Homo sapiens: one gene and its partners. The protein of the gene in region 2 interacts with the protein of the main gene of each other region in a pairwise test. Each region holds a gene or a part of one and is shown on either strand. Other genes may lie near its edges. The genes, in order: THAP12, ZNF526 and ZNF524.

The links.
Region 1: the proteins of ZNF526 (region 2) and THAP12 interact in binary tests that used the Homo sapiens proteins (3 or more experiments, as listed by UniProt).
Region 3: the proteins of ZNF526 (region 2) and ZNF524 interact in binary tests that used the Homo sapiens proteins (3 or more experiments, as listed by UniProt).

The regions. Positions count from the first base shown.
Region 1 is NC_000011.10:76,374,386-76,378,135, forward strand, and holds part of THAP12 (52 kDa repressor of the inhibitor of the protein kinase), read right to left. Parts: intron 1-3,750. UniProt on the Homo sapiens protein: Upstream regulator of interferon-induced serine/threonine protein kinase R (PKR). May block the PKR-inhibitory function of DNAJC3, resulting in restoration of kinase activity and suppression of cell growth.
Region 2 is NC_000019.10:42,223,253-42,227,002, forward strand, and holds part of ZNF526 (zinc finger protein 526), read left to right. Parts: intron 1-962; 5' UTR 963-1,053; intron 1,054-1,134; 5' UTR 1,135-1,151; coding exon 1,152-3,164; 3' UTR 3,165-3,750. UniProt on the Homo sapiens protein: May be involved in transcriptional regulation.
Region 3 is NC_000019.10:55,598,290-55,602,039, forward strand, and holds the start of ZNF524 (zinc finger protein 524), read left to right. Parts: upstream 1-1,998; 5' UTR 1,999-2,119; intron 2,120-3,750.

The DNA of each region.
Region 1 (3,750 bases), on a different chromosome or scaffold from region 2:
CAAAAAAAAAAAAAAACACATCAGTATCATCAGTGATCTCACCAGAAAAGTCTTTAAGTATTAGAGAGCTGTCAAGCTCACAGTGGCACATAAATTTTCCAAAATTCTAATTTTCAACTTGAATGCTCAAATTATCAGTTGTTCTCCTTGAAGTGGCAGGCTTGTTTATTTCTGAGAAAATGTCTACTGAACACTCAGATCTGAATAATATTTAGAAAATTCTAGAAAACACAACACAAAATTTATCAAAGCAATGATGCCATCATGTTATGTAGCAACCCAAAAATTCCACTGTCCACTCCTGAGAGACCAAATATGAAAAATGCAAATAATATCAGTGTTATTATGAAAATAGTTCTGACATTGTGGACTCCCTGAAAGGATCTTGGGGATTGCTATGGTCTGAATGTCTGCATCCCCTCAAAATTCATATTGAAACAATCCCCAGTGCAGTGGTGTTGGGAGGTGGGGCATCTGGGAGATGACTTAGGTCATGACGGGGAAGCCTTATTTGCCCCTTCCGCCATGTGAGAACACAACAAGAAGGCACCATCTAAGAAGCCAAGAGTGAGCCCTCACCAGATGCCAAATCTGCTGGTGACTTTATCTTGGACTTCCCAGCTTCCAGAACTATGAGAAATAAATTTCTGTTGTTTAAAAATCACCTAGTCTAAGGTATTTTGTTATAACAGCCCAAACAGGCACCCTCACGAGTCCCCAGAAAACCACTGTTTTACATTTCACAAAGTAGAGCACACCAGCTCTCAATCAGCCTTCATTAAATTGCCAGAAGAACCTTGGAAGCCCTCACCCATCTTGGGTGAGTTAGTACTAGCTGCCTGAGGAGGAAGAAGAGAGCTTCAACGCCCATCTCACTCTAATCAGAGCAATTCATTAGCTCTACCTGTACCATCTCCTGGTTTAGGAAGAGCTCCACTGTGAGCTGCCTCACAGTGGCAAGCCTTGGCATTAGGCAAGCCACCCTGGGGCAATCAAGACTTAGGCTTTTTTTTTTTTTTTTTACTTAAACCGTGTCACTGACCTAAGCTGGGTTGATTATTTCACTTTTTTAAAAAAGAAGCATATTAATGCCACGTTTTCTAAAACAATAAGAACTATTATGGTATGTGATTCCACACCATACACTTTATTAATTACACTCTTGAAGTTTAAATTATTTCTAAATAGCTGTTTCTAAAAGCATGCATGGAATTTATAACTGATGACTGGGAAATGTACTGTTTTAATAGCATTAAATATATTCATCTTTATTGTTTGTTAACAATGTTAGCATTTGAAGACTAGACTGGCAATGTCACCTTTTATCAACCTTCCCTACAACCTGTTTATAGAAGAAAAGGTGGGGGGGGGGTGGGTTAGAACTAATAACCCTAAAAATACTGTTATTAATTCAATAACACCTCTGGAAACTACTTCTTTGTTATAAATAACACTGGGCACAGTGAAATGGAAACTATCAAATACAGTAGAACTTAAAATCATGTAGTACGAGGAGGTTTGATTTGGATAAAAAGACCTTGAACATATTAAGTTAAACAAGCCAGACATAAAAGGAGAAATATTGTATGATTCCACCAATATGAGGAATCTAGAACAGGCAAATTTATAAAGACCGAAAGTGGATTCGAGGTTACCAAAGGCTGGAAGGGCAGGGGAATGGGAGGTTATTGCCTAATGGTTACAGTTTTTGTTTGGGATAAATGAAAAAGTTTTGAAAATAGTGGAGAAGGTTGCACAACACTGTGAATGTAATTAACGCCACTGAATTGCACACTTAAAGGTTAAATTAGCAAATTCTGTTGTATTTTACCAAAATTTTAAAAATTAATGTATATACCCCAAATCGTACACTTTACATGGGTGAATTATATGTGAATTGCATCTCAATAAACATCTTTTTAAAAAGAAATTCATGATTTGGTCTTGAAGCATTCAAAGGAGTCTAACGTTGAAAAGGGCAGAGACTTCGTGTGATCCTGGGAACAAAACTAGGACCTCCAAGGCCTCAATTACAGGAGGCAGATGTCCACTCAATACAAGGAAGAAACAACAGCCAAAGCGTCCAGAATCATCACGTGTCTTCTCACAAAGGGGAGGACTATCATTAGAGGTGTTTTAGCAAGGGCAAAGATGCCCATCTGTCAGGAATGCACAGGGCCTATAAAGGCCCATAAACATCTTTGTCTTCGAATGCTAAATTGTGTCTATGTTTTTTTTGTTTTTTTTTTTTTTTCAGGTAAGAGTCCTTATGCTAGATTCTCAAAAGGGATAATAACCCTAAAAATGATAAAAGTCACTATTATTGAGAAAATTCCAGTATTTCAAGTGAGATTTCACTAGATCTAAACACTTCTTTCAAATCTGAAACTGTAAACCCCTATAGACTATACTCCCCTTAAGGAGTGTAGTCAAAACAGGATTCACTACATATTAATACAAATGACCTGTGGTCCAGAACTGACTAGGGGTGCCCTCATTATGGAAGTGAAATAAACCTGTAAGAATGTCTTTGGGCTAAAATTTGGGTAAAAGGAAGATAACGCATAATGGGGCAAGGCCAAGTCAGACTAAGATGCTCCTCTCCTCTGTTCCCAACTGCTACTCCTCACTGTACTGAGCGAGTTCTTTCCCATGTCTCGGAACTTAAAACACTGGGAATGCCCCAGGACTCAATCCTCAGATCTGTTCTTTGCTCACTCCTTAGATAACCTTAACCCGTACCACGGTTTTAAATACCCTCTATAAACTGAGAACACCCATATTTACAATTTCCGGTTTGAAAGTCTCTGAATTTCAGACTTGTATATCCTATTCTCTCTTCAAGACATCTATTTTCTTTGAGGTGAAATTCTCATAACATAAAACTAACCATTTTAAAGTAAAAAACTAATGGCAATTAACACATTCATCATGTTCTGCAACCATCACCACTACCTAATTCTAAAACATTTTCATCACCTCAAAAGGAAACCTTGTAACCATTAATCAGTTGCTCCCCACTCTCCCTTTCGCCCAGCCCCAGGCAACCACTGATATGCTTTCTATCTCTATGGATTTACTTATTCTGGATATTTAATATAATAGAATCATACAACATATAAGCTTTTGTATCTGACTTCTTTCACTTAGCATAATGTTTCTGAGGTTCACCCATACTGTAGTATGTACTGGCACTTCATTCCTTTTCATGGCTAATATTTCATTGTATTGATATACATTTTGTTTATCCATTCAAGCACTGATAAACGTGGCTTGTTTCTACCTTTTGACTATTGCGAATAGTGCTGCTATGAATGTGTGTACATTTGGTTTTTTTGAATATCAGTTTGCAATTCTTTGGATATACGCCTAGGAATGGAATTGCTGGGACACACAGTAATTCTACATCTAACTGCCACTTGTGGTTTTGATTTGAACTTCTCTAATAACGAGTGATGCTCAGCATCTTTTCATGTGCTTTTTAGCCATTTATATCTTCTGTTTAAAGAAAGAAGTCCTTTGCCTATTTTAAAATTGGGTTGTCTTTTTGTTGCTGAATTGTAAGAGTTCTTTATATATTCTGGATACTGGACCCAGATCAAATGTATTATTTGCAAGTACCTTCTTCCATTCTTTTCACTTTCTTGGTAATGTTCTTTGATACACAAAAGTTTAATTTTGATGAAGTCCAATTAGTCTATTTTTCTTTTTACTGCATGTATTTTGGTGTCATATCTAAGAATGTGGTGC
Region 2 (3,750 bases):
AATCCCAGCACTTTGGGAGGCCGAGGCAGGCGGATCACGAGGGCAAGAGATCGAGACCATCTTGGCCAACATGGTGAAACCCCATCTCTACTAAAAATACAAAAATTGGCCGGGCGTGGTGGCTCATGCCTGTAATCCCAGCACTTTGGGACGCCCAGGCGGGCAGATCACGAGGTCAGGAGATTGAGATTGTCCTGGCTAACACGGTGAAACCCTGTCTCTACTAAAAATACAAAAAATTAGCCGGGCGTGGTTGCAGGCGCCTGTAGTCCCAGCTACTCGGGAGGCTGAGCCAGGAGAATGGCCTGAACCTGGGAGGCAGAGCTTGCAGTGAGCAGAGATTGCACCACTGCACTCCAGCCTGGGCGACAGAGCGAGCCTCCATCTCAACAATAACAACAAAAAAATACAAAAATTAGCTGGGCATGGTGGCGCACACTTGTAGTCCCAGCTACTCGGGAGGCTGAGACAGGAGAATCACTTGAACCTAGGAGGTGGAGGTTGTAGTGAGCCGAGATTGCGCCACTGTACTCTAGCCTGGCAACAGAGCAAGAGTCCATCTCAAAAAAAAAAAAAAAAAAAAAAAGAGGCCGGGCTGTTGGCCGGGGTGGTGGCTCACATCTGTAATCCCAGCACTTTGGGAGGCCAAGGCGGGTGGATCACCTGAGGTCAGGAGTTCAAGACCAGCCTGGCCAACATGGTGAAACCTTGTCTCTACTAAAATATATATATATATATATATATATATATACAAAAATTAGCCAGGCATGGTGGCACACCCCTGTAGTCCCGGCCACTCAGGAGGCTGAGGCACGAGAATAGCTTGAACCCAGGAGCGAGAGGTTGCAGTGAGCCAAGATTGTGCCACTGCACTCCAGCTTGGGTGACAGACCAAGTCTCTGTCTCAGAAGAAAAAAAAAAAAAAAAAAGAGGCTGGGCTGAGTGGTGTTTCTCTCCTGCAGGCTGCCGTGGGGTGTGTGTAGGCTTCAGAGACATGGGATCACGGAAGACTGAAGCAGAAACAGTGGATTAAGACTTCCTGAGCGATAGCTGGTGAGTAGTGGGATGTGCAAGAGAATTCCACCTCCCCTTGGTTTCCTGCTGTCTCACTGGCTCCTGCCCCTCTTTCTCCAGGCACTGCCTTCCCCACAATGGCAGAGGTGGTGGCTGAGGTGGCCGAGATGCCAACACAGATGTCACCAGGGGCAGTGGAGATGTCAACACCTATGTCGGCAGAGATGATGGAGATGTCAACAGAAGTGACTGAGATGACACCTGGGGAGGCCCTTGCCTCATCCCTCTTCTTCCAGCATCACCAGTTCATGTGCTCTGAGTGTGGCAGCCTCTATAACACACTGGAGGAAGTCCTCTCACACCAGGAGCAGCACATGCTTGCTGTCTCAGAGGAGGAGGCACTGACCACACAGAATGTTGGCCTGGAGCCGGAGCTGGTGCCGGGTGCTGAGGGGCCCTTCCAGTGTGGTGAATGCAGCCAGCTCATCCTCTCCCCTGGGGAGCTCCTGGCCCACCAGGATGCCCACCTCCGAGAGTCTGCAAACCAGATCCAATACCAGTGCTGGGACTGCCAGGAGCTGTTCCCCTCGCCCGAGCTGTGGGTGGCTCATCGAAAGGCCCAGCACCTTTCTGCTACGGTAGCTGAGCCACCAGTGCCACCTCCTTTGCCTCCCCCAACACCACTGCCTCCACCTTCTCCCCCATCCGAAGTCAAGATGGAGCCCTATGAGTGTCCTGAGTGCTCTACCCTCTGCGCCACCCCTGAGGAGTTCTTGGAGCATCAGGGCACCCACTTTGACTCCCTAGAGAAAGAGGAGCGCAATGGGTTGGAGGAGGAGGAAGAGGACGATGAGGAGGATGAAGAAGATGATGAAGAGATGGAGGATGAGGAGGCCATGGCAGAGGTCGGTGATGATGCTGTGGGAGGTGACGAGTCCACAGCTGGCTGGGCTCAGGGCTGCGGGGACTGTCCCCAGCACCAGCCCTCAGCAGGGGCTCGCCGGCAACACCGGCGGACGGCTCACAGCCCGGCATCTGCCACCCACCCCTTCCACTGCAGCCAGTGTCAGCGCAGTTTCAGCTCCGCCAACCGGCTGCAGGCTCATGGGCGGGCCCATGTTGGTGGCACACATGAGTGTACAACCTGCTCCAAGGTCTTCAAGAAAGCAGCATCGCTTGAGCAGCACTTGCGGCTGCATCGCGGGGAAGCCCGCTACCTCTGTGTAGACTGTGGCCGCGGCTTTGGCACAGAACTCACGTTGGTGGCTCACCGGCGGGCCCACACTGCCAACCCATTGCATCGCTGTCGTTGCGGCAAGACGTTCAGCAACATGACCAAGTTCCTCTACCACCGGCGCACTCACGCCGGCAAAAGCGGGGCACCTCCCACAGGAGCAACAGCTCCCCCAGCTCCAGCGGAGCCCACCCCTCCACCACCACCCCCTGCCCCACCTGCCCAGCTGCCCTGCCCACAGTGCTCCAAGTCCTTTGCCTCAGCTTCCCGGCTGTCCCGGCACCGGCGTGCAGTACACGGGCCCCCTGAACGGCGTCACCGCTGTGGGGTTTGTGGCAAGGGCTTCAAGAAGCTGATCCACGTGCGCAACCACCTGCGGACACACACGGGTGAGAGGCCCTTCCAGTGCCACTCATGTGGCAAGACCTTTGCTTCTTTGGCCAACCTCAGCCGCCACCAGCTGACCCATACGGGTGCACGTCCCTACCAATGCCTGGACTGTGGCAAGCGCTTCACACAGAGCTCCAACCTGCAGCAGCACCGGCGGTTGCACTTGCGGCCAGTCGCCTTTGCCCGCGCCCCCCGCCTCCCCATCACTGGTCTCTACAACAAGAGTCCCTACTACTGCGGGACTTGTGGCCGCTGGTTCCGCGCCATGGCGGGCTTGCGACTGCATCAGCGGGTCCATGCCCGAGCTCGGACTTTGACGCTACAGCCTCCCAGATCACCATCTCCTGCCCCACCCCCACCTCCAGAGCCTCAACAGACTATCATGTGCACAGAGCTGGGGGAGACCATCGCCATCATTGAGACATCCCAGCCACTGGCGCTTGAGGACACCCTGCAGCTGTGCCAGGCTGCACTGGGGGCCAGTGAAGCAGGCGGGCTCTTGCAGTTGGACACGGCCTTCGTGTGACGCAGCTGAAAAGCAACAACAAAAGGGTTTGGTTGCAACAGCCAGTGTGGGTACCTCTGGGGAGAGAGGACCTCCTCTGACAAACTGGTCTGGTACCCACCATGTGCCAGGATCCACCCTGGCCTCTTTTTACCCACTGACTCCCCAGAACAACCCTTCCAGGCTTCTCTTGTCATCTTTCTCTGCCTGAGGGGAAACTGAAGCTCTGAAATGCGATGTGATCTGTACCAGGTCACCCAGCTATGCTGCAAAGTGGGTTGGCCAAGGCCCTTTGCACTGCATCACCCTGGTGCCCAGCAACATCAGGTAACCTTCACTGAGCACCAAGCTTATGCCAGGTCTGTGCTGGCCACTCTCATATACCTCTTCAGATCCTCTGCTTGTACCCCCAGCCCTTGCCTTCCCTGGATTTTGGGCACCCAGGACTTTGCTCTGCCTGGTGGAGGGTACTTGATTTCTCTGGGCTTCCTTCATCTCAATTCTGACAGTGTGGAAGGAAATCTGTAGGTACCCAGGTCCTCAGCTCCAGACTGGGTGATGCTGGAGACCCAGGAGCAAGTCAGCACAGGCTCTGCCCACAGGAGGC
Region 3 (3,750 bases), about 13 Mb from region 2:
GCCAAGCCCTTTTCCTTCCAAAAGGCCCTCCCACTCCCCTCTAAGCTCCTCCCACTCCTCTTCCAGGATGACCACTTAGCGAATGGGAGGGCAAAGATTTGGGGCTAAGCACACTGGAGTCATCCTTGCAGGGAGACCAGAATTACTCCTGTAACATCAGATAATAAAAATTCTTCATCTGTAAAATGGGAATAGTAGTACCTACCTCATGGAGTGGTGGCGAGAATTAAGTAAAATTGTGGCAATAAATGCTACGTGCCCACTTAAGCTGGTGCACAGCAAAGACGCAACAAGTAAGCTGTTTGGATGACTATTATCCCGTAAGTTCCTCCTGGATTCCTCCTTAAGTCCTACCATGATTGCTAAGTTATTTGACTTATCTAAGCCCCTCTCGGGTCCACTAAGACCCACTTCCAAAACTCCACCCAATTTTTCCTTTAAAGAAGCCACATCCTTTCTAAGACTCTCCACTGGACTCCCGTCACCTTCTCAGGCCTTCTCTACGAAGTCTATTCCCATCCCCTGCAAGTCCTTTCCACATTCATTATAAAGACCTGATAGTTGCATTAAACCCCTCCAAATTACACCCTTAAACTCCACCCCCCTCACTAGGCCTACCTACTTCTCTAAGCCACACCCCAGACAAACTCCATCCCTTCTACTCTAAACTCCTCCCTCCTGCTTCCTGGGCTCCCTTTACCCAACCAGCCTCAATGAGTTTCCTTCCACCCCTCAATCCAGGGCCTACCCACCATTCCTTCTGAGCCACGCCCCTTTATCAAACCCCACCTCTTTGCCTAAGACCCTCCCATTTTCTATCCAGACTCTCCCTCCTCCACGCCCCTCCCACTTCCACTCTAAGCTCCGCCCAACTCAGGCTCCTCCCAGCCCTTGCTCCGCCCCAGCAGCCACTAGGCCCCGCCTCCTCCTCCACCCCGCAGCCTGAGGAGCGGGCCCCCCCACTTGCCCAGTCTGCTCCAGGCCCCAGGCCCCGAGAGCCGGCCTTTTGTGCCCCTCCCCCTGCCCCTAAAAGGTGCAGCCCTGGGCGCCCGGTTGGGGGGCAGGTCGGGCAGGCCCCGGGGCCAGGCGAGTCCACCTCGCTCGTACGGAGCGTTGGTCCTGGAGACCCGGGGCGGCCCCGGGAGGCCGGGGAAGTCCGTCGGCTTTCCTCTTTAATTACTTACACCTCCCTCTGGGCGCCGACATTTTGGGCAGCGGGGGCAGCGTCACTTCCACCCGGGGGGCCCCTCGACTTCCGCCTCAGCTCCCTTCCCCCGCCGTACTCCCCCTTTCTCCCGCCCTCTTGGCTCCCCTTCCTCATCCCCGCCCTTCTCCCTCTTTCCCTTTCCTTTCCCAGCCCTGGAGGTTGAAGAAGCCAGGCCCGCGCCATCTTGGGTGAGGGCAGCGGGAAGGGGCGGGGCTTAGGGACACCCACGGCGCCATACAGACTAAGGGCAAGGAGCTGAGAGCGAGGGGGCTTCTCCGTGGCGACACTAGGCGATGCTAACGTAAATGAGAGCAGATACTATTTCTTTTTCACAGCCTCGGACTCCTCCGATTAGGATGTACAGTTGGACTAGGGAAAAAAAAAGAAAGCGAAGTGCGCCAACTGCAATACAGAGCTGGAAAAGACCGGCACCATCTTATCCACTTAGCACTCCATGGGCTTCGAAGCCTGTCCGGTGCCATGTTAATTACGGGCACTGGGCAGCCATTTTCCCGCTCCTCATCATTCGGTATCTGTCTTTGGGTCACCCGACTGTGGGCTTTGTGAGAGGAAAGGCGTTTCGAGGTGGTTGGGGATGTGGTGCTGGGTTATTTCCCACTGGGGACACACCAGGGCCGCCGGTGCGCAGGCGCGGCTTCCGGGCGTGGCCGCGACCGGTCGTTAGGACCCAGCGAGTCCCCTTTGTTTCCCGCGGGCGCGCAGGCGGGCGGGAAGGGCAGGAAGGGAGGGGCCCGGCGCTTCTCCGAGGGGCGGGGCCGGCACCGCGCGCCGCCGCCCCCGCCTCGCCGCCGCCGAGGGGCAGGGCCCCCTCACCCCCTCCCCTTCCCACGCGCCGGCCCCGTTGCCCCCGCGCGCGCGCACACTCGCGAGCCCCGGCGACATGCAAATGAGGTACCCGAGAGGCGGGGGGCGCAGGCGGGAGGGGGGGTGTGGGGGTAGGGGAGGCCGGGCCGCGCGCTCCCGGAGCGCGCCTCCAACACCTGTTCCTGCTCCCGCGCTCGCGCCCCGCGAAGCCGTCCGGGCGCGCGCGCGCAGACCCCCTTCCTGGCAGCCCCCGCCGCCCGCTTACCCGGCGCCGCTCATTGGCCGTCGCCCCCGCAGGGCCCGCCCCGCGCTTGGGCTTCGCAGCTCGGGGGCCGATGGGCGCGTCAGTACCGGGGCGAGGGGACGGGGAGGGTCGGGGGACCAGTCTCCCCCTTTCCACCGTTCCAAAGACCAGACTCCTAGACTAGGCTACCCCGTGGGAGCGAACCGTATGGAAAGGTGGTTGCTCCTCTCTGGACAGCAGTCTATGTGGCTGTTAAAGGGGAGGGGGGGGTGCAGGGGGGCACCTGCAGCACCTGCTTCCAGCTGCACCTGTGCCTCCCCTTCCCCTCCGTTACACCCCAATCCCATGCTCCCAGTATCTGAGTGGGCGCCGGGAAGATGGTGGTGGCGTTGGTGAAGTTTATTGAGTGCTTACTGTGCACCAGGCAGTGTTCGAGGGGCATTTTAAAGCCCACTGTCTTATTCGATTCTCCTGACAACCCTGGTTTATTCACTTTTCAGAGGAGGAAACTGGCAAAGTCAATTGCTAGTTATAGGCAGAGCTGAATTCAAACCCAGGACTGAGCCCTCGTAATGTCCCCTTTCCTCCTTGGGTTTATTTGTTCTCCATTCTCTGGGACATTCGGGTCACAAGACCTGTTTCCAGTTTTGGCCCTGCCATTTACTGGCAGAGGAACTTAGGCAACTGACTTGGCTTTCCTGTGCCTCAGTTTCCCCATCTGCAAAATGGGACAGATATGCCCTATTCAGAGGGTTGATGTGAGGCTTAGCTGCTCCTGATAACAATGGCTAATGTGTCCTGAAAGCTTCTGTGTATGAACACTTTGTGGGTATTATGCTCATGGCATGTCTGGGCAAGTACGTAGAACTATGTGTCCCATTTTGCAAAAGTCTTGATTAAGGCTTAGAGAAGCGAACACCTTGCCCAAGGCCACGCAGAGAGTAAAGATTTGAACGAATGATGTCTTGACTCCAGGGCCCAGGCTCTTAACATCGCAGATATGTTTCCTCATCCAGGAATCAGGGTCAAATATCACCTGGGACCAGTCCCTTTTTTCCACTCTGGAACCCCTTCCCCACTTCTGCCAGTCAGCAGGGAGGGATGAGAGCATTCGTGAGGCCTCTATGGCTCTGGAGTTTGATGGGCTCTCCGTTTCAAGGATCACAATACTGGTCTGCACTCTCAGTTGGACTCTATCCTCTCTGGAAGGTTTTTTTTTGTGGGGAGGTGGGGAGGGGTGTTGCTCATGTTGATCTTGAACTTCTAGATCCAGAAGGAGAGTTAGGGAGGCATAGGGATGTCTGGTGGAGCTCAGGGAAGTGCCTGTTTATCAGCTGATACAAGATCATCTCACTGTTTTACCCACCAGCATAGCTAAAATTGTGTATCTGGATGAATGTCAAACACACCTTTGTCAAGAGACTTGGAGAGAGGGATGGGCGAGGTGTTGGGGGACACAGGGGTGCTCTAGACC